Homo sapiens: one gene and its partners. The protein of the gene in region 2 purifies or fractionates together with the protein of the main gene of each other region. This does not show direct contact. Each region holds a gene or a part of one and is shown on either strand. Other genes may lie near its edges.

Evidence for each region.
Region 1: the proteins of LRRC27 (region 2) and MCM8 purify together in Homo sapiens (affinity purification with mass spectrometry; 2 studies listed by BioGRID and IntAct, with this or other methods). This does not show direct contact.
Region 3: the proteins of LRRC27 (region 2) and MTR purify together in Homo sapiens (co-immunoprecipitation; 2 studies listed by BioGRID and IntAct, with this or other methods). This does not show direct contact.
Region 4: the proteins of LRRC27 (region 2) and POLA2 purify together in Homo sapiens (affinity purification with mass spectrometry; 2 studies listed by BioGRID and IntAct, with this or other methods). This does not show direct contact.

What each region holds. Positions count from the first base shown.
Region 1 is NC_000020.11:5,995,609-5,999,480, reverse strand, and holds the end of MCM8 (DNA helicase MCM8), read right to left. Parts: 3' UTR 504-3,872; downstream 1-503. UniProt on the Homo sapiens protein: Component of the MCM8-MCM9 complex, a complex involved in the repair of double-stranded DNA breaks (DBSs) and DNA interstrand cross-links (ICLs) by homologous recombination (HR).
Region 2 is NC_000010.11:132,335,193-132,342,192, forward strand, and holds part of LRRC27 (leucine-rich repeat-containing protein 27), read left to right. Parts: intron 1-2,147; exon of another isoform or gene 2,148-2,229; intron 2,230-2,372; coding exon 2,373-2,503; intron 2,504-7,000.
Region 3 is NC_000001.11:236,798,277-236,805,322, reverse strand, and holds part of MTR (methionine synthase), read right to left. Parts: intron 1,896-7,046; coding exon 1,681-1,895; intron 1-1,680. UniProt on the Homo sapiens protein: Catalyzes the transfer of a methyl group from methylcob(III)alamin (MeCbl) to homocysteine, yielding enzyme-bound cob(I)alamin and methionine in the cytosol. MeCbl is an active form of cobalamin (vitamin B12) used as a cofactor for methionine biosynthesis.
Region 4 is NC_000011.10:65,257,234-65,264,994, forward strand, and holds the start of POLA2 (DNA polymerase alpha subunit B), read left to right. Parts: upstream 1-4,728; 5' UTR 4,729-5,059; coding exon 5,060-5,138; intron 5,139-7,761. UniProt on the Homo sapiens protein: Accessory subunit of the DNA polymerase alpha complex (also known as the alpha DNA polymerase-primase complex) which plays an essential role in the initiation of DNA synthesis.

The DNA of each region.
Region 1 (3,872 bases), on a different chromosome or scaffold from region 2:
AGAAAGAGAATATATATACACTCCATAGAGTATATATACACTATATATATATACTGTACTCTCTAGAGTATATAGACTATATATAGTGTATATATAGAGTATATATACTCTATACATATCTGTATAGTATATATATACACTCTATAGTGTATATATATACTGTAGAGTATATAGTATATATAATATATAGTATATATAATATATATACTTTATAGAGTGTATACTCTAGAGTGTGTATACTCTAGTGTATATATATATACACACTAGTATATATACTGTATATGGAGTGTATATATATACTCTATATAGTGTGTGTGTGTGTGTATATATATACACATATATACTCTCTCTATATATATGACATGTTGAAATTACTATACATTTCTAGAAGCAAAGACTAAGAGTCTGTAGTCCCAAGGAATTATTCAGTGACTTTGCAAGTCTATGTACTAAGAATAATTCTGATTTAAATGTCAGAATCTGGCTCAGTTTTTGTTTTAACCTTTTTTTTAAAATTTTTAATCAGTGTTATGTATACACATGGTAAGTAACTCCATGGTATAGAAAAACTGATGATGGAATTCAATAGGTGCACTCTGCCTTTCCATTCCCAAGCCCACGCTCTAGAGCAAGCCTGGTATAGCTTTTGTTTTCAGTTCTTCTGAGGGTTAAATAAAACGAGTAGGTAGTTTTGTGAATTAATATTGCCTTATAATTTTAAGTATAGTACATGACCCAGGTGGAGTGCTTTAGATACAGATGTATGAGTGATTAGTTGCAGGAAACACAAACTACTGTAGCTAGCCACATTTAAAAGGACTGTAAAACAGGGAACTGGATGCTTGCAATATTGTCACAAGGGCTAGGAGTGGGTTCCATACTGGGTCTCCAGAATTAACTCCCAGAAAAACACTGCAGGTCTGTCTGGCTTGCCAGAGGCGCTGCTACCCCACAATAATGAGAAAGGTGAAGAATCAGGGTTGCATCCACCACGCCACTTGCCTCAACAACTGACTGCAAGAATTCTGCTGCAGGGAAATTAAATGTCTCCTCAACCACACATGCCACCAGAACACAAGCAAGAGGAAGATGGCTCTCTCCTCAGTTCTGCATTCCAAATCTCACACATGGGTGTCTGATCAGTGGAACCCAATTCACATCTGGAAATCTACCTGCAAAGGGAGTCTGGGAAATGTGGTTATTTTCTCACCTTCCAGCCCCTGCATTATAGGAAGGCACACTAGGAGAGCAGAATGGACACTGAATACCAAATCACCGTATCATTGTATCTACATTTATCCACCTCTTTGGCTAGTCAATATCCATACCATTGTTTATGAATTCAATGCATTCATAAACAATATATGAATATTGTTTAATATTCTTCTGTATAACAACAGCAACTATAACATGCTAATGTAAGTACGATATTTCCCTTCTTTATCAAAGGAGAGCTATAAAGATCCATCAATCACAGGGTGGTGTTTATTCCTCTTCTCGTTCAGTTATACCCTCACCTTGATATCTCTATCCTAAAAATGAAATGATCAAGTTGATTACCACCAATACAATTTACTTAACACAATATTGGAAAAGAGAGGAGGCTGGGCATGGTGGCTCACACCTGTAGTCTCAGCTACTCAGGAAGCCCTGGAGTTTGAGACCAGCTTGGGCAACAAAGGAAGACCTCATCTCTACTAAAAATCAAAATTAGCTGGGCATGGTGTTGCATTCCTGTAGTTCCAGCTACTCAGGAGGCTGAGGTAGGAGGATTGCTTGAGCCCAGGAGATCACGGCTTGATCATGTCACTGCACTCCAGCCTGGGCGACAGAACAAGACCCCCATCTCTTAAAATTTCATCTCGCAGCCAGGTGTAGTGGTGCATGCCTGTAGTCTCAGCTATTCAGGAGGCTGAGGTGGGAGGACTGCTTGAGCTGAGTAGTTCAAGTCCATACTGGACAACATGGCAAGACCACCATCTCTTGAAAAAGAAACTTTTGGCTGGGCACAATGGCTCACGCCTGTAATCCCGGCACTTTTTGGGAGACCGAGGCAGGCAATCACCTGAGTTCGGGAGTTAAAAACCAGCCTCACCAACATGGAGAAACCCCGTCTCTACTAAAAATACAAAATTAGCCATGGTGGCACATGCCTATAATCCCAGCTACTTGGGAGGCTGAGGCAGGAGAAACGCTTGAACCCAGGAGGCGGAGGTTGCGGTGAACCAAGATCGCGCCACTGTACTCCAGCCTGAGCAAAAAGAGCAAAACTCTGTCTCAAAAAAAAAAAAAAAAGAAAAAAGAAAAAAAAAGAAACTTTCATGATGTAATGTTTTCTTGCTTTGCATGTTTCTGTTCTGACATTTGTACTTAGGATTTGTTTTAATCAGCAATGGTGACACAGAAACAATTGCCTATGGAAGATTACTTTCATCTCCCAAGAGGGCGTGCCATGCCACACCAGGCCACATGAGGAAACACCAAAGTCAGTCAGGCAGTAAAGAAGCAAGTGAAAAGCCTAGGCCAGAGCTTTGTTGCTACAGTGGTTGAAAGGTGTGGGGACACCCACTATTGGGCAGGAAGTGAAATACTATATGTTGGGGTTTGTGGTTGGAGGGACTGTAATGTGATGTTTGCACACCCATAAAAGCTGGATTGTAAGGGAAAGCTAAACAACTTTTGTTGTTAGTTTGGCCCTGTGATTAATGGATGCTAAATACATAATCTAAGGAAACATGGAACTTCTTCTTCTGAAAATGTAGGTTTATGTCTTTTTAAAAATAAATTTATATAATAGCCTTAACCTTTGAGACTTATTTTCCTCTTTGAACAATAAATTAGTATATTTTCTCTTCTGTCTACCACTTTATTTTGGTTGATATTATTTATGTGTTGACTTTTGTGAAATGTTTTAAATTCTATTAATAGATTTTTTTTCAGCTTTAAATATCTCTTATTTAGTTTGGAGAAAGAGTCTCACTCTGTTGCCCAGGCTGGAGTGCAGTGGTACGATCTTGGCTCACTGCAACCTCTGCCTCCCGGGTTCAAGTGATTCTCCTGCCTCAGCCTCCTTAGTGGCTGGGACTACAGGCACACACCACCATGCCTGAGTTATTTGCTTTAAATATCTTTTAACTCCTAGCTTTTAAAGACTTCACTATATTTATACTACTATCTACTTTCTCCATTTTTTTTTTTTTTCTTTAAGAGACAAGGTCTTGCTCTCTTGCCCAGGCTGGAGTGCAGTGGTATAATCATAGCTCACTGTAACCTCAAACTCTCGGGCTCAAGTGATTTCCTACTTCAGCCTCCACAGTAGGTAGGACAATAGGCATGCACCACCGTGCCCAGCTAATCTATTTTTTGTAGAGATAGGGTCTCAATGTGTTGCATAGGCTGGTCTCAAAACTGGCTTCAAGTGATCCTCCTGCCTCGAACTCCCAAAGCTCTGGGATTATAGATGTGAGCCACTGCACCTGGCCCCTTTTGATTCCTGATTTTTCCTTCCTCACTTAAAAATTTACATTGTGGTCTATGGCAATAGTCTCCACATCTTAGTTCTGGTCCTATAGTTAAACATCTGATATACACTGCCAGTTCTTTTTATTTACATTTTCCATTCATCTTCGTTTGCGGGAAGCCGTATTTTAGTAGATTCTCCAACAATGGTTCACATTTCCTGAGTTCTTGTATGTTACAAAGTGTTTGTTGGATTTATACATGATTGATAGTTTGGCTGGCAACCCTGTAACATTTGAATCCTCTCACAACATATGAGAAATTCTGGTCTTATTGATCCCACCACCTGAAAGTAGAACCAGGAAAACTCCCTAGCAGCCTATGAAAGGGGCATATAACATACCCTTTTTCAA
Region 2 (7,000 bases):
TGATGGGCAGGCACACCCAGCAGGGTTACAACAAGCCATTTATCCCCTGGTGCGCAGGTCCTGCCCCAGTTCCTCATAGGCTGAGTACTATGGGGGTTACAGTCTTCCCAGACTTCGCCTATTGGTTGTTGGGTAGGGGCTGTAGGGCACAGGTTCCTCCCCCAGATCCTCATAGGCTGAGTACTATGGGGGTCACAGTCTTCCTGGACTTCGCCTATTGGTTGTTGGGTAGGGGCTGTAGGGCACAGGTTCCTCCCCCAGATCCTCAGAGGCTGAGTACTATGGGGGGGGGTCACAGTCTTCCTGGATGTCGTCTATTGGTTGTTGGGTAGGGGCTGTAGGGCGCAGGTCCCTCCCCCAGATCCTCATAGGCTGAGTACTATGGGGGGGGTCACAGTCTTCCTGGATGTCGTCTATTGGTTGTTGGGTAGGGGCTGTACGGTGCAGGTTCCTCCCCTGGTTCCTCATAGGCAGAGTACTATAGGGTCGCAGTCTTCCTGGACGTTCCCTATTGGTTGTTGGGCAGGGGCTGTAGGTATTTTCTTTAGGGTTGTCCTGCTTTATTTTGTCGTGGCCCACAATGCATTGCAATCCCAGTCAGCTCAGGGGCTCTTCAAGTATTTGATTTATGACCTAAGTAGCTGGGCAGGCTGATAAGAACGGACAAAACGAGCTATTTTGCGGGCTAGTAAACTTTCATCTTAGACTAATCTTCTTTGGTTTGGGTGAGGGCAACTAAGGGGTGGGGAATGGCCAACAAGCAGGCATCGGCTATCCAAGTAGGGGCCTAGTACATCCTGTTTTTCTGTAGTTTGCTGACCTAAGCCAATTCAAGGCACTTTGTCTTGGAAATGGACCACTGTATATATTATTTCCTTCAACCATAACCAGCTCCAAGTCACAGGTGGTGCCTGCATTTCCAGAGGTGCTGGGGAGGAAGAAGAGTGTTATCTTTCTGAGATTCCTTTTACTGGCATTGAGAACGACATGGTTTCAAAGCTGAGCACTGGAATCAGCTTGCCCTGGGGGGGGAAGAACAGGACCAAGAAGTGTAAAACCACTCCTGCAGAGGCCCGAGAAAGGCAGCACGTGGAGGCATGCACATGCCTGTATGTGGGGGGTGCACACCCATATACGTGGGGGCACACACTGTGACCTGTGATTGCCAGGATGCTTTCTGGAGACCGAGCCAGCTGCCAGCAAGCAGTGACTCGGGCAATTTCCTAACAGAGATAAGATAGTGTTTCCAGTGCCTTTCTGAAGAGTGTGATTTTTCCAGTCAGTGTTTCTCCAGTTGGAATCTGTCAGTGATTTGGATCAGGGACACGGTGTTGAGGGCGGAATGGGGAGGCATGTGGTGCTCTGTGCAATGTGCAGTGTGTGTTTCATAGAGAAGGCAACGTAATCACAACAGCCAATCCACGCACTGTTCTTTAGTGCTTGCCCACATTGCCCCGTCTCACAGATGAGGACACTGGAGCACAGAGAGGTTCAGGAACTTGCTCAAGGTCACACAGCCAATAGATTTTGAAACCTAGATGTGGATCCAGGCAGTCTGGCTTTGAGATCATTGTTCCGAACATCTGTTTCTACTCCCTCAGGAAATACAGATATGGATATAAATACATATAATAATGTGAGTATAAACAACTAGCAGCATTAATGACAGTATTGTAAAAATTAGCTATGATCCTTCCACACTGTGACTGTAAAATTGTGTGAATGTTATATGCATTTTACACAGCTAAAATCAGCGTGTATACGTTCATCTTCCACCTTCCCTTATTTGTCACGACTTTACAACGCCACCGAGTTGATGTGTCAATCTGCTTCTGAAATGCTGCTCGCTGAGGCTTTGTTTGCTGCTGATCGTAGAGAACACCACGGCAGACATCTCTGTCCCTGTCTTTTAGTTTCATTTTAATGATTGAGTTGGGCTGAGTCCCCCAGACCAGACATGGCTCTGGCTATTTGCTCAGTAAGCAGGCGATTTCGGGGGCTGCCGAGGGCCAGGTGCTGCGGCAGGCACTGGAGAAACGGCCGAGACACTGAGTGTGGGGCCCCGGAATTCAGACCATGTCAAAGGCTTTGGGATAGAAACAGTGGTGTGCTGGGTCAGCAGCAGAGTGCCGGCTCTTCAGGAAGTCAGTTCCGGCTCCAAAGGCCGCCGGAAGGAGTCCTGGTTCTTTTCTTTCTGATTCTTTTGTCTACTGTTTACATCTTTTAAGGGTAAGAGATTGGGTTTTTGTTTTTTAACTTAGTATATACGGTTCTGGTTGTTAGTAGTTCTTTTGGAAATAGATTTTGGATATATCATGTTTTACAAATTAGTTGGTTAACAAAACATTCTCTGATTCTCTTTTCCATGGAAGCAATTGCATCTGCAAAGGAATGCCCTGTGTGTGATTCCTCAAGATTTCTTTCAGTTGCTTCCGAACCTGACTTGGCTGGACCTCCGGTACAATAGAATTAAAGCGCTTCCTTCTGGGATTGGAGCTCACCAGTAAGTTGTTTATGTTTCCAGATTTTAAAAATCATCTTTTCAGTGCACGAGTGCCTGTTCTTTCGCTCCTTGTCCTTTACTCTTGATTAAATTTTTACCTCGGAATAGAAACATTTAATAGTATTTTTAAAGCCAGCTAAGAGGTTGCGACGGCTGAATGTACCCAACACAGAACTATAACTTGGGATATTTGGTGCCACAGAGAATGCTGTAGCCACAGTGTCTTTTTGCTGGGCAGCCAGTGTGATTTTTGTCACAGCCGATTCCAGCTCTGACTCTCCTTGTGTGAAGCTGTCTGAAAATCAGAAATACCTCTGATGAGTTAAACCAGCAACTTTGGCCAGGCGCGGTGGCTCACGCGTGTAATCCCAGAACTTTGGGAGGCCGAGGTGGGCAGATCACCTGAGGTCAGGAGTTTGAGACCAGCCTGGCCAACATGGCAAAACCCTATCTCTAATAAAAATACAAAAATTTGCCAGGCGTGGTGGTGGGTGCCTGTAATCCCAGCTCCTCAGGAGGTTGAGGCAGGAGAATTGCTTGACCCCAGGAGGCAGAGGTTGCAGTGAGCTGAGATCACACCACTGCACTCCAGTCTGGGTGACAGAGTAAGAGTCCGTCTCAAAAAAAATAAATAAAAAATAAACCAGCTCCTTTGCTCCTGAGGGCTCCTGGGTAACCCACATTGGTTCTTGGCAAATAGTGAGAAATTCTTCTCACTTTGGAAAACTGGGAGCACCCAACCAAGCTCCAGGTGTCCTGTCCATTTCCACCACTTCCCTTCCAGGAGTTTCCTTGCATTCCCACTTGTGGGGTGTAATCCTGCCCATGGTGGAAACGTCACACCTCCTTTCCCCTCCTCAGCCTGGCCCTTCCCCAGCAGCCAGGACTCTACTCTCACTATGGAGACGTCCTCCTTTCCTGAGCTCTCTGCTTCTGTGCCCACATCCCCGGCGCCATGGCTTTTTCACCTTCTGAAGCCATGATTGCCCTTAACTCTTTTTCTTTTCTTTCTTTCTTTTTTTTTTTTTTTTTGAGACGGAATCTTGCTCTGTCTCCCAGGCTGGAGTGCAGTGGCGTGATCTCGGCTCACTGCAACCTCTACCTCCTGGTTTCAAGCGATCCTCTTGCCTCAGCCTCCCAAGGAACTGGAATTACAGGTGCCCGCCACCATGCCCGGCTAATTTTTGCATTTTTAGTAGAAACGGGGTTTTGCCATGTTGGACAGGCTGGTCTCAAAGTCCTGACCTCAAGTGATCTGCCTGCCTTGGCCTCCCAAAGTGCTGGGATGACAGGCATGAGCCCCCGCGCCCGGCTACCTGAACCTCTTTTGACAAGTGCTGATATGAAGGCCCCATATCAGCTGGGGCCACGGCAGCAGCCCATGCAGGAGGGGCAGCCTGGGCGTGGCTGGCCACGGCAGGGCCTGGGTGGGACTTCAGAGCTGGTGGGATGCGGGTGGGTGTGGGGCCACAAGAAGAAGAGGGGTATCCAGGGTGCCCCCAGTTCCTACGTGAGGAATGGTGTCTCCCAAGAGCCATGGTGGCCTCCGTGGGACAGTAGAATAGAGGCTTGTAGGAGGCCCTTCACTTGCCTTGAACTCACTGGTTTTAAAAATGTTTTATAAGAAGTCAGTGTATTTTGCCACAGGTAATGGGAGGGAACCATGCATCACTCACCCTTCAGGCTCTGCGAGGAAGCTGCTTATCTAATGATAGGTGGTGTCCGGAGCAGGTGGAAACACACCCGGTGCATCTCCATGGGGCTCCTAGGGACTCTGGGGTCTGCAGGGCGGACCACAGACGGACCTGGAGGAGAAGAGTGTTCCGGGGCTCAGCTGGTACATCTGCCGAGCCCGGCCAGCCGCTTGTGTTTTGGGAGCTGCATGGGAGCCAGGTGCTCTCTGGGCAGTTGTCCACCCTGTCCTCACGGCCTCGGGAGGCTTCCAAGCCTGAGGCTGAGAGTGCTTTGGGAAGGATTTCTTCTTCACACGATCATCATCTTCTGGGTTTAGAATCACTGGGTGCTCTTTTGTCCACAAATTGTTTTAGCCTTACACAGTTCTGGAGAGTAAGTGCTACTCAGAGGATGTAAATGAACTAAGACCTGTTCCCATAACTACTCGTGTTTTCCCTAAAATAAGTGTACAGTCCTCAAAATTTGAAATTCTTTGATTTTGCTAGTCAAAGCTGGCTGCCTATGTTTTTGGAGGTATACTTTTATTTGTGATTTGTAACCCATGATAACATTCAAATTAGATCAACTACAGAGCTGAGACATATTACTCGGAAATACAAAGTGATTGTGGGCTTATTAAAGCCTTAAACCTCTCAAAACATAATTAAAACAGTGACGGTGTTAGCATGCCACCTTCTCAGTGTCCTGGATGTGTCAGCTTGCTGGCAGAGAGAAGATGTAGGAAGCATGGATCCGTTCATTTACCTCCTTAGGCCAACAAGTCCAACTCAACGTTTACGTTTATATATTCATTTTAAAATCAATGAAACGAATCAACGGGTAAGCTTTGAATTATTGATAGTATTTAAGGAATTAACATTTATCAATTTATCGTTTAAAGTGTGCTCAGAATATTTTAATAATATTATTATATAAGGTAGAAAAACCCGTGCTGTACTTTCAGGTTAATAGTCAGTAAACATGCACCCCCCGCAATCCCTCTCAGGCAAAACCGAACCCAGCCCCACCCAGCAGCACGTGAGTGGGCCAGAACCTTTCTGCCTTGACAAAGCCCTAGCATTGGAGAAGCCGAGAGCGTGGTGCTGCTCTTGCTGCCCTCCTCAGCATCTGGAGGCCTCTGTTCACCTTATAGAGAGCAGATGCTGTTCTTGTTGGCTGGTTTTATACTAGCAAAATTCAGAGGGAGTAAACCAAAAACAGTGAACTGAACGAACCACATTGAAATAATCCACTTTTGTGCAGTTCAAGAAAAGTTTGCTTCATAAAGTTTATTCCTTAAAAACTTCAAATAATGGCCAGGCACGGTGGCTCACGCCTATAGTCCCAGCACTTTGAATGGCCGAGGTGGGCGGATCACAAGGTCAGGAGTTCGAGACCAGCCTGGCCAACATGGTGAAACTCCGTCTCTACTAAAAAAAAAAAGTACAAAAAAATTAGCCAAGATCACACCACTGCACTCCAGCCTGAGCCACAGAGTGAGACTCCATCTCAAAAAAAAAAAAAAAAAATTCAAATAACAAGGAAAATCCAAGAAAGTAAGTAGAAAGAAAATTGTCTAAACCTTAAGTAATCTGATTTTCCTGTGGGGTTACCAATAAAAAAATTAAAGGTAATTTAAATGAGGGCTGGGCATGGTGGCTTATGCTTATAATCCCAGCACTTTGAGAGGCTGAGGCGGGAGGATCACTTGAGCCCAGGAGTTCAAAACTGGCTTCAGCAACATGGGAATACCCTGTGTCTACAAAAAATACCAACATTAGCCAGGCATGGTGGCACACACCATTAGTCTCAGCTCAGCCAGGCGTGGTGGCACACACCATTAGTCTCAGCTTAGCCAGGCATGGTGGTACACACCGTTAGTCTCAGCTACCTGCGGGGACTGAGGCGGGAGGATTGCTTGAGCCCAGGAGGCGGAGGTTGCAGTGAGCAGAGGTTGCAGTGAGCTGAGATTGTGTCACTGCACTCCAGCCTGGGCAACAGAGTGGAGACCTTGTCTCAAAAAATAATCATCATAATTAAATGTGAAAACCAAGAAGCATAGTACAATAAAAGTTACAAAATAGAGTTTAATAGAATATATAGATTTTTCCATCATTCAACTAGTAAATTTTTACATTCTTTCCTGTCCGTCTGTCTAGGCATCCATGATATATTTTGGGCTGCATTTTATAAGGATGTTACTAGGTGTTAAATGAAAGTAGATGCCTTCCCGAAATGCTGCCTTAGCTGAGTTTCTTACGTAGAGGCTTCTCAGAGTCCCCAGTGTATGAATCATTCATCTCCAAGCAGGGCAGGTTATACTGTGCGGTGGAAGTCTCTCAAACATTTTTGGCCGTAGAAAACTTTTTTCACAGAGCATGATAAAACACTGGGATTCCTCACTGCACATCTTAGGAAAGACTGGTTTACAGTGAGGTTATAACTGGAAGGTGTGAAAGCCTAAAATAGAGGTTCTTAACGGGGAGATTTTACCCCCAGGAGACTGTTGGCAATGTCTGGAGACATCTGTGGTTGTCACGCCTGGGGGTGGGTGGTACCCCTGGCATCTGTTGGAGAAAGGCTGGAGGTGTACAATACCCCGCAAAGCAGGGGACACCACCACCCCTATGGACTGCCTGGTCCCATGTGTCAGCGGTGCAGGGCTTAGACCTGTGTTTGCATATGACAGCAGACCATTTGTGTGTACATGTTGTAAATTTAAGTGTATCTGTATTGAAGTTGCCCCTGAAAGAGAAGAAAAATGAAGAAACTTGATGGTATATTTTGGAGATAGTCAATTAAATCTTGCTTTTTAAATTTTTT
Region 3 (7,046 bases), on a different chromosome or scaffold from region 2:
TAGTCTCTCTGAACAAGCATCACATCCCTACTGAAACCCTGAAGATCTTGATGCTCCTTTGTGCTCTCTTCGAAACTCGTCTCCCTGGCTCCACTCCTTGGATCATCTCAACCTCAATCTGACTAGCAACCTGGAATCCCTTGACCCCCTTGATTTTCCAATACTGAATAAACCCAACCCCTCTTAAGTCGATGGACAATGGTTGCAGAAGCACTGGGAGATAAAAACCAAGATACGCACATTTATAGTAACAATAACAAACATCCGAAATATCTACCCATAGGGAAACAGCTAAATAAACTAAAATATATCCACTTTATTACATGCCATGTGACAGCAAAAAAACTGTGTATATCTACAAATACTGACATGGAAAGATTCTGCAAAGTATTGTTAAGTAAAAAAAAAAATAGAATGATACGTAAAGCATGACACCATTAAATTAAAAAAACATACACAGAGTACTATGAGTTTTCTACATATATATATTCACTCACGTATACACACATACACATATATGAAAATGCCTAACAAAGGAATCTGGGACGACACACACCAACTAATATCAGTGGTTATCTCTGGGGAAAAAATAGCAATTTAGAGTATGGTCAAATGGGAATGTATTATCTACGAGATTTGTTTTATAAGAACTAATTTAAGTTTTTTTTAAAAGAACAAGAAAAACTGAAAATAAACTTAATGCCTAGGAATAAGGAGATTAGTTAAATAAATGATGATATATACATGGAATAGATTATGAAGTTATTAAAACCATGTTCCAGAATATTTAATACTCATGGTATATAAGTAAAAAATGCAAATTATAAGACAGTACGAAGCAATGTAATCCCAATTTAATTTTTTAAACTCCAAGTATAGAAAACTAGACTAAAATACAAAATACATGAATGATAATTGTATCTTAGAATTTTATAATGGGTGAGCGCCAGCTTTCTAGTTCATAGACAGCATCTTCTCACTGTATCTTCACATGGTGGAAGGGGTGAATAAGCGCCCTTGAGCCTCTTTTATAAGGGCACCTCCTAATACCATCACACTAGGCATTAGGATTTTACATATGAATCTCATGGGGACACAAACATTGAGAACACAGCAGTGCCCTTATAAGCACAAATATGAGAGTTTTTTGTTCTCTCTCTGCTCTCCGTCATGTAGATACAAAGACAGCTATCTATAAACAAGAGGGCCCTCACCAGACACAGGATCTGCTGGCACTTTGACTGTGGACTTCCAGCTTCCAGAACTGTGAGAAATAAATGTGTGCTTGTATAACCCAGTCTATGGTAACAGGTAATACAGCAGCCAAAGCTAAGATACCAACCACCTTTAAGCATTTCTTCATCAGGGCTGTTGCAGTAACTTAAATAAGATAGTTTTCTCACACTCACTAGTGTGAAAACCCTTATTTGTCCAGATTCTCATAGTTTTTCACTAGAGTTTACATGCCTCAAGGGCAGAAAACCTACCTACCTCATTCCCTTATCCTGAGTGCTTAACACAGTACATAACTTTTATTTGATGTCCAAAACCTGCTTTCTGAATAAATTGCCTCTTTATTCTTTATTCTCCGGAGCACTCGGCATAGCAGCCTGCCCTGATACATGAAACAGCTTGCAGAATAACAGAATGAATACACATGGGAACCTGGGAATACTTTACCTTATGGATTTGGTAAATGACATCAGGCTGAGTTATACTTAAAATGTCATTGTTGCCTTTCAGCGGCCTGGCATGATCTTTAAATTCCTGACCTCGGAAGTGTTCTTCGTTTAGCTTCTCCCGCTGGATCATGGTCCCCATCCCTCCATCCAGCACCATAATCCTCTTCTGCAGAATGGCATTGATCTCATCCCGCAGGGTTTTCTTCAGACCTTCTTTAAAGAAAGTGAAAGTTTGACTTCAAAGAATGAAAGGTGAAAAAGATGTGTGAGGGAGGAGCTTTAGAGAAATTTATAATAATCTCCAATAAGGAGTAAATGGAGTTTATAAAAGATGCACTCATAACTCTATATAGGAAAACGCTGCCCAAAAAGGTCATTAAGTCGTGACAATGCCTAATACAAGATTGCACACAGCACAAAATTCCTGGTGAAGCACGAAACCAAGGTGAAGGTAGGCTACACTACTCCTGTTTTACAGATGAGGAAAACAGGCAATAATGGGCCAGTGATACAAGACTTTGCTCTCTTTCCTTGTTAATTCTGTGCAGATACTCCCTAAATAAAATGATTTAGCAGAGATAATTGAAAACCATCAATAATTCCAAACTATTCTTTAAAATATTAGCTTTGACCTTCTCCCTCACCTATTGCCAGAACTAATAATGGCCTGCAAACAGAGTTTTACTCACCTCTGCCCAACTATGAAATAATAACTGGCTAACACCCTTGAACTTCTCAACTCTCCCCATGCTCCTTGACTTCTAATTCCCAGTCCAGAAAAGGGCCCAATGCTTACTCCTTCTAATCCTGCTTTCTGGTTTCTACGACCTACTGGAAAGCCACAAAACTATGCTGACTGGAGTCACTGAAAACTTGCAACGTTCAGCCTCCTTTGGTTCACCTTTTCTTGACCTCCCTCAATACTTCCAACATCTACTGTCCCAATTTCTACTTTTTTTTTTAGCACCAAATCCTTTTCCTCCTCACTCCACAAGTGATTTCACCTAATCCCGTACAAAGAAGTTTTCTGTTGGAGGCTCCTCAAACTCACACCCTCTCCACCTCAAAATCCTCTTGCAGTCTGGCTCACTCTATTTCCCTTCTTTCTGTACCTAAGGAAAAGCGCATGATGACCAACACCTCCCACTGCTCCCTCATCTAGCCCTTCCCACTCCCACAGTTCCACCTCAGCAACCACCGATTTCTTATCCTTCTGACATGGCTTCCTCCTCCACCACTCTCCTGAAATTACTTTCTAAAGTCACCAATGACCTTCTAAATATCAAAAACACCTGGCCCCAATCTTAGACCCAGCTTTTAAACTGTCCACTGGATATGGCTACCTCAACTACCCACCTGCCCCTCAATCTAATATTCAAAACCAAACTTGCATATATTCTCTGTCTCATCTCCTGATTTCTGTAAATGGCAACACCCTTCCCAGAAGACTAACCATAAAATCTCAGTATTATCTGACTCCTTATTCTCCCTGATAACCAACATCTACTTAGATCCCAAGCCTTATAGATTTGGCCTCTAAAATGCCATGCACAATGGTCCCACCTTCCTCGCCCTGTGACAACCCCTTTCTTCAACCCCTTACTACACAGGCCAGCTATCACCAATCCTCTCTGAGCTCTAGTTTGCATCCATGCAAATGAGATCATACATCTATGGAAGTGCCTTGTAAACTATCAAGTGTCCTACAAAGGTAAGAGATCACCACCATACCCAGTCGCCCTGTGTTCTAATCCATCCTGTGCACCACTACCAGATTTATCTTCCTATACAACAATTTTAAACCAGTTGCTTCCCCTGCTCAAACACCTTCAACAACTCCCTATAGCATATCAGACTGAATACATGTTACTCAAAACAAACCATAATGACGCCAACCCATTCCTTCTGTGCTAAGAGGCGAGAAAAGCTCAAGTCAAATGGGGCTGGTTCTAAGCTATCTGAGCTCCTTGGAACTCATGCCTAGCAACACTAAGGTCAGTACTTGGCAAATATTTCTTTAATTGAAATGACAAAAAAGTGAGGGAAGATGAGAAAGAAGAGGCAAAGATAATTTAAAACCCAAACCAGTAATGTAAGAATATTTGTAAGCTGGTATTGGGTGCAAACTTACAACCCTGCCTCGTCTTACTGTCCAGAGTCTCAAGTATACAATATGAGAACTGGGGCTAAATGGTGGTCACAGAACTATTTTGAGTGACTTTCTCCAAGTGGGCTTCAGGAAGGTGGCTCTAGTAACCTAAAAGAAAAATTTGCAATATCCAATATCTAGTTTCTGGGCACTATGTTTCTTTCAGGGTGTACTATTCCTTTCCAAAGCCACCTCACTTGCTAATTGTGTTTACTGAACTTGCAGGTGAGATAAAACACTTCCTGATAAAGGAACGAAGTTAAGCTCCAATGATCTGTACAAAAGTACTTCAAGAACCAAAGAAAATCACTTCTTGGGAAATGTGGAGAAAAGGTAGGGCTTAATGAAGCATGTATAATAGAAAGACTGGTAGGCATCAGGCAGTGGGCGCCATTTCAAGCTATAGTCGACACGGTAAATTCACATGTAGTGTTAATTTAGGCACTCCATGATGTGACTATCCTATCAGCCAATAAGCACTCAGAATTTGATAGGCTTAAGCTAATAGTAGCAGGGTGTGAAAACCCAAGAAATCTGGGTTTTAGCCCCAGCTCCCCTTAGTAGCTATGGGATTTTAGACAAGTCCTCTCCATGCTTCAGCAAGATGAGGAAACATCAGCCCTGCCTTCATCATCAGAACTGTGATACTAAAATGAGACCATGTGTTAAGAACTGGACCTCTTAAGTCACACAAGTCATGAAATGAGACATTGGTGTTTGATGTATAGTAAACATCTGATAAATATTAGCTACTCTTATTATGTTGGTATTATAGCACAGCAAGGACTGAAGCTCTAAAGATTGTGTTCTATATATTACAAAGCTCAGTGGGCTGTGAAAAATCATGTAAAGCCTGAAGCTCTCAGTTGGTCATGTTGGGGCAGGAATGGCATATTTGCAGGTTGGGAAATGTCTTCTAACAGTCGAGTGAAAGAAGAAAATACTCAGTGAAAGCTGTTAAATGTAGATAATTTCACAGGAGGAATGAGAAGACTAAGAACTAAAGACTCTAACCTACATGCCCAGCTGAATCGCTTTCTTCTCAAAAGGATGTAGCTGCAATTCTCCCTGAAATGACATCACGTGAACTTAAGTGGGTGACTGAATCATAAGCCTAGTGTGAGCATGAGGTGTGGCAGTGGGGAAATAGGTCATGCACATGAAATTTCATATTTAAAAGGTATTCAAACTTCCTAGGGAGAAAAAGGCAATCTTTTCCACAGACAGTGAAGTATGTCCTTTGGCATCGGCAAAATGATTAATCAATATCAATCAATATCCTATTATTTACATGTCCTTCTTCCTATCTCCTCCACTGAGCGAGTGCACACAAGTTGAGCAAATCTAACCACTCAGAGTGCCTCCACCCCTCATTTTCATAAAAAGTCTTAGTACTTTTCCATGGGGCCCTTACTGTATTCCCTTTTCAATCCAGAAATAATAAGCTTTGTTTTTGGACTTTAAGACAGTTCACTATTTACCACAAAACAACCCAGCCCCACACATGCAAATTCTGGCATCTTGTTTGTTGAGCCACCGTATAGGCAAGAGATCAAAAGCTGTTTAAAAACATCTGCTTTGGTTTTTCAGAAACCTGACAAACTTATTGTATAATTTATTGGGAAGAACTTTATGACTTCGAATGAAAAGGAACTTCTTAAGACTCAAAAAGACCAACCTCTTAATTTAAAAAAAAAAAACACAATGAATTTGATTACATAAAAACCAAGGATTTCTGTTAAACGAAAGTCACCATAGACAAAAATAATAGACGATGGGTTGGGGGAGATTCTTCAATGTCTAAAGCTAATTTGTTTTCTTATTGATTTGTGTTAGTTCCTTGTACATTCCAGAATGTAATATACAATGTGAATTAAAAATACCTATAGACTAGAGTTTACAACAAAATGTATAAATATATGGATATATGTGAAAAAGGCGGTCTATGGAAACAAGAGAATTGTGAATAGAAAATACAGATAAAAAGGAATATATAATAAAACACAGGAATTTTGCAGCCTGAATAAAAAACTCCTATGCAACTGAGGCCCTTAAAAATCCATTACTTGGGCTGGGTGTGGTGGTTCACACTTGTAATCCCAACACTTTGGGAGACCAAAGTAGGTGGATCACTGAGTCCACGAGTTCGAAAACAGCCTGGGCAACACAGTGGCCTCATCTCTACAAAAAAAAAAAACAAAAATTAGCCAAGCCTGGTAGTATGCACCTGTAGTCCCAGCTACTAGTAAGGCTGAGGCAAGAAAACTGCTTGAGCCTGGGAAGTCGAGGCTGCAGTGAACCGTGATCACGCCACTGCCCTCAGCTTGGGCAACAGAGTGAGACTGTCTCAAGAAAAAGGGGGAAAAAAAAAAACATAGTTTCCTCAACTACTTGCTTATTTTTCCTTTAGAGGATAATGTAAGATTTCCCATTTAGAGAAACTAAGAAGTCTTCCTTCAGAAAATCTGTTGGTATTAAGTGTTCACTATTTTTAGCCTTCTGTATTCCTCCAGTTTTTCCAGTAGGAGGTCATTTTTCACTGGGCTTTAATTACCATTCTAATTCACCAGTTTCCAATTACTATCAGAACTTGCTCAAAAGAATAAGTCACCTTGACAATTCCTTCCCCTGGCAGAGTGGGGATCTACTGAAATGTCACTCTTCCATGAAGAACAACAAAATTGTATTTATCTGTATTCAGTTCATTAGGTCTAGAACATTCTGTATACTTAACTACTGACTAGTCAAGTTCTAAATAAAGCAGATTCTTTCTGATTATCTTTCACAGTAAATATAAGAATATAGTTTTGCAGTTCCTTTACTTAGCTGACTAGTTATAACACTATTTCAGAAATATTTTTATGTTTAATGTATATATGTAAATAACCGCAGTGCAGAGGAGAGTCCCAAGGAACATCCTTGGCTAGTGAGCCTAAGAGATCACACAGTATTTTCTCCAGTTTTGAGTGGATTTAGCCAATATATTTTGTGGGGTTTTTTTCCGTGCCCTTAACATCTTATTTTCTAGCTAACAATATTCTGATTCACAGCAAGTGTTCCAAAGAATAAACATAGGTATAAGTGGTTAAAGCCCTAGTCAGATTTGGAGGGGGGTAGACCAGCTAGTACCACCTTTAAGAACTAGCCTAAAGAATGACAAGATGAAGGCCTAAACAAATAAATTCCTAATATGTGCATGTAAGTTATAAATTGCA
Region 4 (7,761 bases), on a different chromosome or scaffold from region 2:
TCACACCGAAGGAGGCCATGCTGAAGCCAGTGCCATCAGCAACAGGAAGAAGGCAAGGATGCCTACTGTGATTCAACAATGATTCCAAGGTTTGGTTCAATGCACCAAGACAGGAAAATAAAATGATTAGTATCAATATTTGAGAAGAAGGGAAAAATATTTTTTATTAGAAAATGTTATTATAATCTAGGAAATCTGAGACTCTCCTAAAACATTAATATTATTAAGAGAATTTGGTCAAAGTGACTGGTTGCAAGAAATATGTCCAAGGCTGGGAGTTGTGGCTCACACCTGTAATCCCAGCACTTTGGGAGGCTGAGGCGAGTGGATTGTTTGCGGCTAGCAGTTCCAGATCCATCTGGGCAACATGGTGAAACCCTGAATCTACAGAAAATTCAAAAGTTAGCCGGGCATAGTGGCGTACACCTATAGTTCCAGCTACCTGGGAGGCTGAGGTGGAAGGCTTGAGTGACTGTAATCACACCACTGCACTCCAGCCTGGTCAACAGAGTGAGATCTTGTCTAAAAAAAAAAAAAAAATTTACAATCCAAAAGCCAGTAACTTTCCTTTAACTGGCAATGACAAAACAAAAAACAATACGGGAGAAACATTACATTCATAAAAGCAACAGAAGATATTGTGTCAATAAATTGAACAAAAACAGGGTCTATATGGGAAAAACTATAAAATTGGATTGATAGACAAAGACAAAAAGCCTAAAAAAATGAAGAGATATACCAGGATCCTGTTTGGAATGCTTAAAGTATTCATTTCTCCTAAATATATAAAAATATTTAAGTCCTTCCTATCAGAATGGAGGGGGATAGGATATACTGTATAAAATGACTTTAAAAGTTTAAAATGGTTTCCTAAAAACTAGGCCAGGCACAGTGACTCACACCTGTAATCCCAGCACTTTGGGAGGCCAAGGCAAGAGGATTGCTTGAGCCCAGGAGTTCCAGACAAGCCTGGGCAACACAGCAAGACCTTGTCTCTATTAAAAAACAAAAATATTAGCCAGGTGTGCGTGGTGGTGTAATCCCAGCACTCTGGGAGGCCGAGACTGGTGGATCACCTGAGGTCAGGAGCTTGAGACCAGCCTGGCCAACATGGTGAAACCCCATCCCTACTAAAAATACAAAACTAGCTGGGTGTGGTGATGGGCGCTTGCATTCCCAGCTACTCGGGAGGCTGAGGCATGAGAATCGCTTCAATCTGGGAGGCGGAGGTTGCAGTGAGCCGAGATCGCTCCACTGCACTCCAGCCTGGGCAACAGAATGAGACACTGTCTCAAAAACAAAAACAAAAACAAAAACAAAAACAAAAAAACAGCCAGGTGTGGTGGTGCGTGCCTGTAGTCCCCGCTACTTAGGAGACTGAGGTGGGGGGATGGCTTGAACCCAGGAGATTGAGGCTGCAGGGAGCTTGATCACACCACTGCATTCCAGCCTGGGCAACAAAGTAAGATCCTGTCCCCCCCCAAAAAAAATAGTAAAATGCTTCAACAGTTTTGGGAAGTTACTGTAAAGCTACCTGGGGCAAACACTACTAAGTGCTTACCTAGTATTAACTCCTTTCTTAGTAACAAAATTTGTATATTGATGGGGTAGCAATGTGTTTCCTCAATAATATTACAATATAACTTTTAAACCTATAAGGAGGCTTTCCCAGCCTCCTTTAAAGGTATGGCTATGTGGCTAAAGTATAAGCAAAAGTGGTTGGGAAGGACTTCTAGAAAGACTCCTCTTCAAAAATGTATAGACAACGGTTTGCAAAAGTCATTTTTTTGTTTCTTTTTTCCCTTTTCATTTCATTTCTCTTTTCACTCTCTTTTCTTGCTTTATGTTTTTAAAATTTTATTTGCCCTTTCTTCTTCCTACTTTCTGCTACCTGGAATGGAATGTGAATCTGATGGCTGGAATTCCAGAAGCCATCTTGGACAATGAGGTGACTGTAAGGATGGAGATTAATTCGAGGACAGTGGAGTGGAACGATGGAGGCCTGATGAACGTGAAGCCACCATTTTAGCCCTGGGCTACCTATCTCTGAAATTATTTTATCTGACGAGAGAAATAAACTTCTATTTTGTCTCAGCTACTATTGTTTTAGGACTTGGCTATGTCACAGATCTAAAACCCACTTGATTTACTCCTGCAATCAAAATATATTGACACAGAAAAGACAACAAATAAATCAGTGGAATAAAACAGAAAATCCAGAAACAGATTCAAGTGTTTATGGGGACTTGATACATGAAAGATCACAATTCAAGTCAGTTGAAGAATGTTTTATTTACTAAGTATAACTGCTGACATGCTGGCTGTTTGTCAGGAATAAAACAAAGCTAAATCCTTCCTCACATCACAAATAAGATTAATTCTAGGTGGATTAGCGAACTAAAGGCAAAACGTAAGTAAAATTAATAAAACAAAAATTGGAAGAATATTTGCATAAGCTTAGGTCGAGGAGACCTTATTAAACAAAGCAGGAAACCTAAAACCCATACAGGAAAAGAATTGCACAGTGTTGTGTGGTAGAAAAAAAAACCCACAAAGTTAAAAGACAGGTTGGGAAAAATATGTATGTAACACATTTGATATCCATTGGTTATTGCTGATGGTGGGAAACTGCAAACATTTTCCGTAAAGAGCCAGAGAGTAAATATTTGAGGCTTAAGGGTGTGAACCCCAAAAGAGGTTCATGATGGATCCGGAGTGGCTAACTAGGCCTAAATTCAAAATACAGCCAAGCAGCCATTGGCTGACTAGAGGTCACACATACTTCGGTTTTTGTTTGCTTTTTTTTTTTTTTAGGCGGAGTCTCGCTCTGTTGCCCAGACTGTAGTGCAGTGGCACAATCTCGACTTACTGCAAGCTCCGCCTCCCGGGTTCACGCCGTTCTCCTGCCTCAGCCTCCCAAGTAGCTGGGACTACAGGTGCTCGCCACCACGCTAGGCTTTCTTTTTTTTTTCTTTTTTTTTTTTTTAGTAGAGACGGGGTTTCACCGTGTTAGCCAGGATGGTCTCGATCTCCTGACCTCGTGATCCTCCCGCCTCGACCTCCCAAAGTGCTGGGATTACAGGCGTGAGCCACCGCACCCGGCCTTTGTTTGCTTTTTGAGACACGATCTTGCTCTGTCGCCCAGGCTGGAGTGCAGTGAGGCGATCATGACTCACTTCAGCCTCGACCTCCCGAACTCAAGCGCTCCTCCAGCCTCAGCCCCCAGAGTGGCTGAGATCACAAGAACCCGCCACCACCGCCCGCTAATTTTTTGTAGAGAAGGGGTTTCGCCACGTTGCCCAGGCCGATCTTGAACTCCTGGGCTCAAGTTAAGGGAGGAGACCACCCCTCATATTGTCTTACGCCCAATTTCTGCCTCCAAAGAAAGAAAAAGTAAAACTAAAAGGCAGAAATGAAATCCACAAGCAGACAGCCCGGCCTCACACCCTAGGCTTGGTAAAGATGGACCCCTGACCTAATCAGTTATGTTATCTATAGATTACAGACACTGTATAGAAAAGCACTGTGAAAATCCCTATCCTGTTTTGTTCTGATCTAATTACTGGTGCATGCAGCCCCCAGTCACGTACCCCCTGCTTGTTCAATTGATCACGACCCTCTCAGGCGCACCCCCTTAGAGTTGTGAGCCCTTAAAAGGGACAGGAATTGCTCATTCGGGGAGCTCGGCTGGTGAGACAGGAGTCTTGCCGATGACCCCAGCCGAATAAACCCCTTCCTTCTTTAACTCGGGTGTCTGAGGAGTTTTGTCTGTGGCTCGTCCTGCTACAAAGTGATCCGCCTGCCTCGGCCTCCCAAATGCTGGGATTACAGGCGTGAGTGACCGCACCTGGCCTGGGATGGACATTTTAAAGGTTCCTGATACATATTGCTAAATTGTTTTCTCGAAACGCTCTATACCATCCCACCAGCATTGTATGACGCCTACGGTTGAGATTTTTGGCTCAAAGAATTACGGTGTATTTCAAGGGGAGAACCCTCTTCTCATCTTACCCCTAAACTCTATCCTTGAGTGACCTACCTTCACTCCCAAGCCTCCAGTCACCCACTGGGAATCTCTACCTGGAAATCCCAGAGGCACTCAAACTTAACGTGTCCAAAACTAAATTATCCGTCACCTTCCCACCTCATATCCCCCCAAATGCCCCAGATTCAGAAAACATACCCATCACTGTGGCTGGCACCACGGTGATAAGCACGATAATAACCATGGCAACCAGATTCCCTACTGAAGCCATTCTTTTAGGATGAACCAAGGGCACAACAGGCAGAGATGACAAGGGGAATGGAGAAGGGGGTACAGTAAGTTTTAGATAGTCGAAGGCACGCGCACGACAACGCCTGCGCACCACGGAACAGGGCAAAAGGGTGACAAACATGCGCCACTGAGTTTTATCGAGCAGCCGATGCCCAGAAAACAGGCATCCGCACACAGACTCAGTTTCCTTGTAGGCAACTCCCGGGCGTTGCGAGTCACAACCGGCATTCTCGCGCCGTGAGAGAGAACTGCGCAGCTGCTGACTGGCGGGCCGCCAGGCGCGTGCGTAGAGACGCCCACACGCCCGCTGATGCGCACGCGCCCTGGGCCGCGCGTGCGCGCGTGGGGTTCCGGAATGAGCCGGGGAAAGCAAGGGGAAGGTTTGGGGTTGGCTCCCGGTTTCGCGCATGCGTGCACTGCACAAACCATTTGGCGGGTTTTTCCGGCCACTCAGTTCTGCCACCGTCACTGAGAAGCTCAGCGGTAGCTTTTGGGAAGCAGGACGTTCTCACCAGGAGAGCGTCCTCTCGAGATTTCTGCTCCCTCCATTCAGGGCGTTTGGGAGCCACCCCTTCATTTTTTAAAAAAAGTATTTCTCTGTGACCGACGGCCGGGGCCTTCTGACGGTCTGAGGTCTTGCTTGGGCCAGTCACCTCCTGTCACGGTCCGCGGAGGGGGGAAGGATAAGAGGGCGAGGAGCTCATCGCTCGCCACCCCCGTGGGCTTCTTGGGCGCAGGTCGGAGCTGGGTGGGCCGGCTCCCCGGCCCCTGGCTTGGGCGACCATGTCCGCATCCGCCCAGCAGCTGGCGGAGGAGCTGCAGATCTTCGGCCTAGACTGCGAGGAGGCTCTAATTGAGAAATGTGAGTCCCGCACCCCTCCCGCCCTGCAGCCGTGCTCCACGCTCTCGCCCGAGTTCCTCGGCGCCTAGAACCGAAAGTGGAGCGCTTCCAATTTCCACTTCCCCTGGAGCAGAGTTCTCGGTGGCTGTGAGATGAAGAATCAAACTTGAGTTTTGAGATTTAGGATGTGGGGACTTTGAAATGCCCACCGGGTACCGCTTGGATGCCAAATCAAAAATAGGAATATGCAGCACGATTTTAAACCAACTCGAAGTTCCCGAAAGGCGGAATTGGGATGTGCTAGATAGAGACTAGGCACTGGTGGCACCTGAGTTTGGAAATTGTTGAAGCCCCGGTAACAAAGCAACAGATGTGGGGGTTTTGAAATGTAGCTTTTTATTCTTGGCTCCTCCCTTTCCAGCCTACACCTTAAACCTCTGCTGATCCATCAGTTATTTTATCATAGCTGTTGGTGGTCTGTGCAAATATGAATCCCTTGAGGTAGGTTCCTAAAATTGAATTTGAGCTGTGGAAGGAGCTTTAGGGAGCTTTACAGATGGAGAAACAGACAAGGAAAGCTAATTGCCTGAGCTGTCTGTGAAGCCAGGTGTCCTGCCTTGGAGTCCCGTGCTGCATCATACGGGTCCATCGTGTTGGTCAAGCTGTAGAGCAGTGTAAGGAGTCATTTGAAGCAAAGCCTGGGAGATGTGGAAGTTCTAGAATCGGTATGAATGTGCACCTGCCTTAACCACTCAACACTTTGAACTTCTTATATACAAAAAGATAACGAAACGTTAATTTATGGTGAGAAATTCCTTTCAGAAACCAGAATACTTCAAGTCTTCATGCCCAGTGCCTTCTCTCTCTCTCTTTTTTTTTTTTTTTTTTTTTGACAGTCTTGTTTTATCACCCAGGCTGGAGTGCAGTGGTGCAATCTCGGCTCACTTCAGCCTCCGCCTCCCAGGTTCAAGCGATTCTCCTGCCTCAGCCTCCCAAGTAGCTGGGATTACAGGCGCCCGCCACCAGGCCCGACTAATTTTTTTTTGTACTTTTAGTAGAGAAGGGGTTTCACCATGTAGGCCAGACTGCTCTCGAACTCCTGACCTCAAGTGATCCACCCACCTTGGCCTTCCAAAGTGCTGGGATTACAGGCATAAGCCAGCAGGCTCGGTCCTTCTCTTTTTAAAAGAAGACTAGCCAGGTGTGGTGGCTCACGCCTGTAATCCCAGCATTTTGGGAGGCCAAGGCAGGTGGATAATCTGAAGTCGAGAATTTGAGACCAGCCTGACCAACATGGAGAAACCCTGTCTCTACTAAAAATACAAAATTAGTCGGGCGTGGTGGCGCATGCCTGTAATCCCAGCTACTCAGGAGGCTGAGGCGGAAGAATCGCTTGAACATGAGAGGCAGAGGTTGTGGTGAGCCGAGATCACACCATTGCACTCTAGCCTGGGCAACAGGAGCGAGACTCTGTCTCAAAAAAAAAAAAAAGACTTAAGTGGAAAACCTGATCATAGTCAGAAATGTATGTGGTAAGCATGAAATCAGCATGAGAGAAATTAGTTATGTGAACCAGATTTGTAAAGGCTTCAGGCCAAGATGCCAGTTGCTTTCATCTCATGGCAATGGCTTTGGAATTGTGGACTTTGGATCATCAGTAACTTCAGTGGCACCTTAATGTTTCCTGACAGTCAACCGTATTTCCCTGTTTTTTTTGTTGTTGTTTGTTTTGTTTTTTGAGATGGAGTTTCTCATTGCCCAGGCTGGAGTGCAATGGTGCAATCTTGGCTCACTGCAACCTCTGCCTCCCGAGTTCAAGCGGTTCTCCTGCCTCAGCCTCCCGAGTAGCTGGGATTACAGGCTCCCGCCACCACGCCCGGCTAATTTTTTGTATTTTTAGTAGAGATGGGGTTTCGCCATGTTGGGCAGGCTGATCTCGAACCCCTGACCTCCAGTGATCCTCCCACCTCGGCCTCCCAAAGTGCTGGGATTATAGGTGTGAGCCACCACACCTGTTCTACTTTTTGTATTTTCAGTAGAGACAAGGTTTCACCATGTTGGCCAGGCTGGTCTTCAACTCCTGACCTCAGGTGATCCGCCCACCCTGGCCTCCCAAAGTGCTGGGATTACACTGCGCCAGGCCCCTGGTCTCTTTACTCTGAGTCTTCCAGATGATTGTTTTCCACCTTCTCCTGTAACATCCTTCTGTCCCACCCTCACTCTCAGCTGACAAATTTCTATTATTTGCTGAAAAATGTAGAAGCATTAGAAAACTTCGATCAGCTACCACCATTATGTCTCACTGACCCATATCTGTGGCATATACCTAGCCTTCTTTCCTATTATAATGAATAAGCTTTCCGTATTCCTAGCAAAATCCAAGTCCTCCACTTGAGTCCTAAACCCCATTCCTTCTGAAGCAATTAAGGACATCACTGGTAATTCTCCTGTCTTACATATTTTCTATTTTCCTTGCTACAAGATTTTTTTCCTACTAGTATAGAAATGTGCTTCCAATCTTGCCTTTAAAATACTCTGTTGACCCTACTTCCCACTCCAGTTCTCTCCTTCCCAATTACAGCAGACCTCAAAAGGGTCGGCCGGGTGCGGTGGCTCACGCCTGTAATCCGAGCACTTTGGGAGG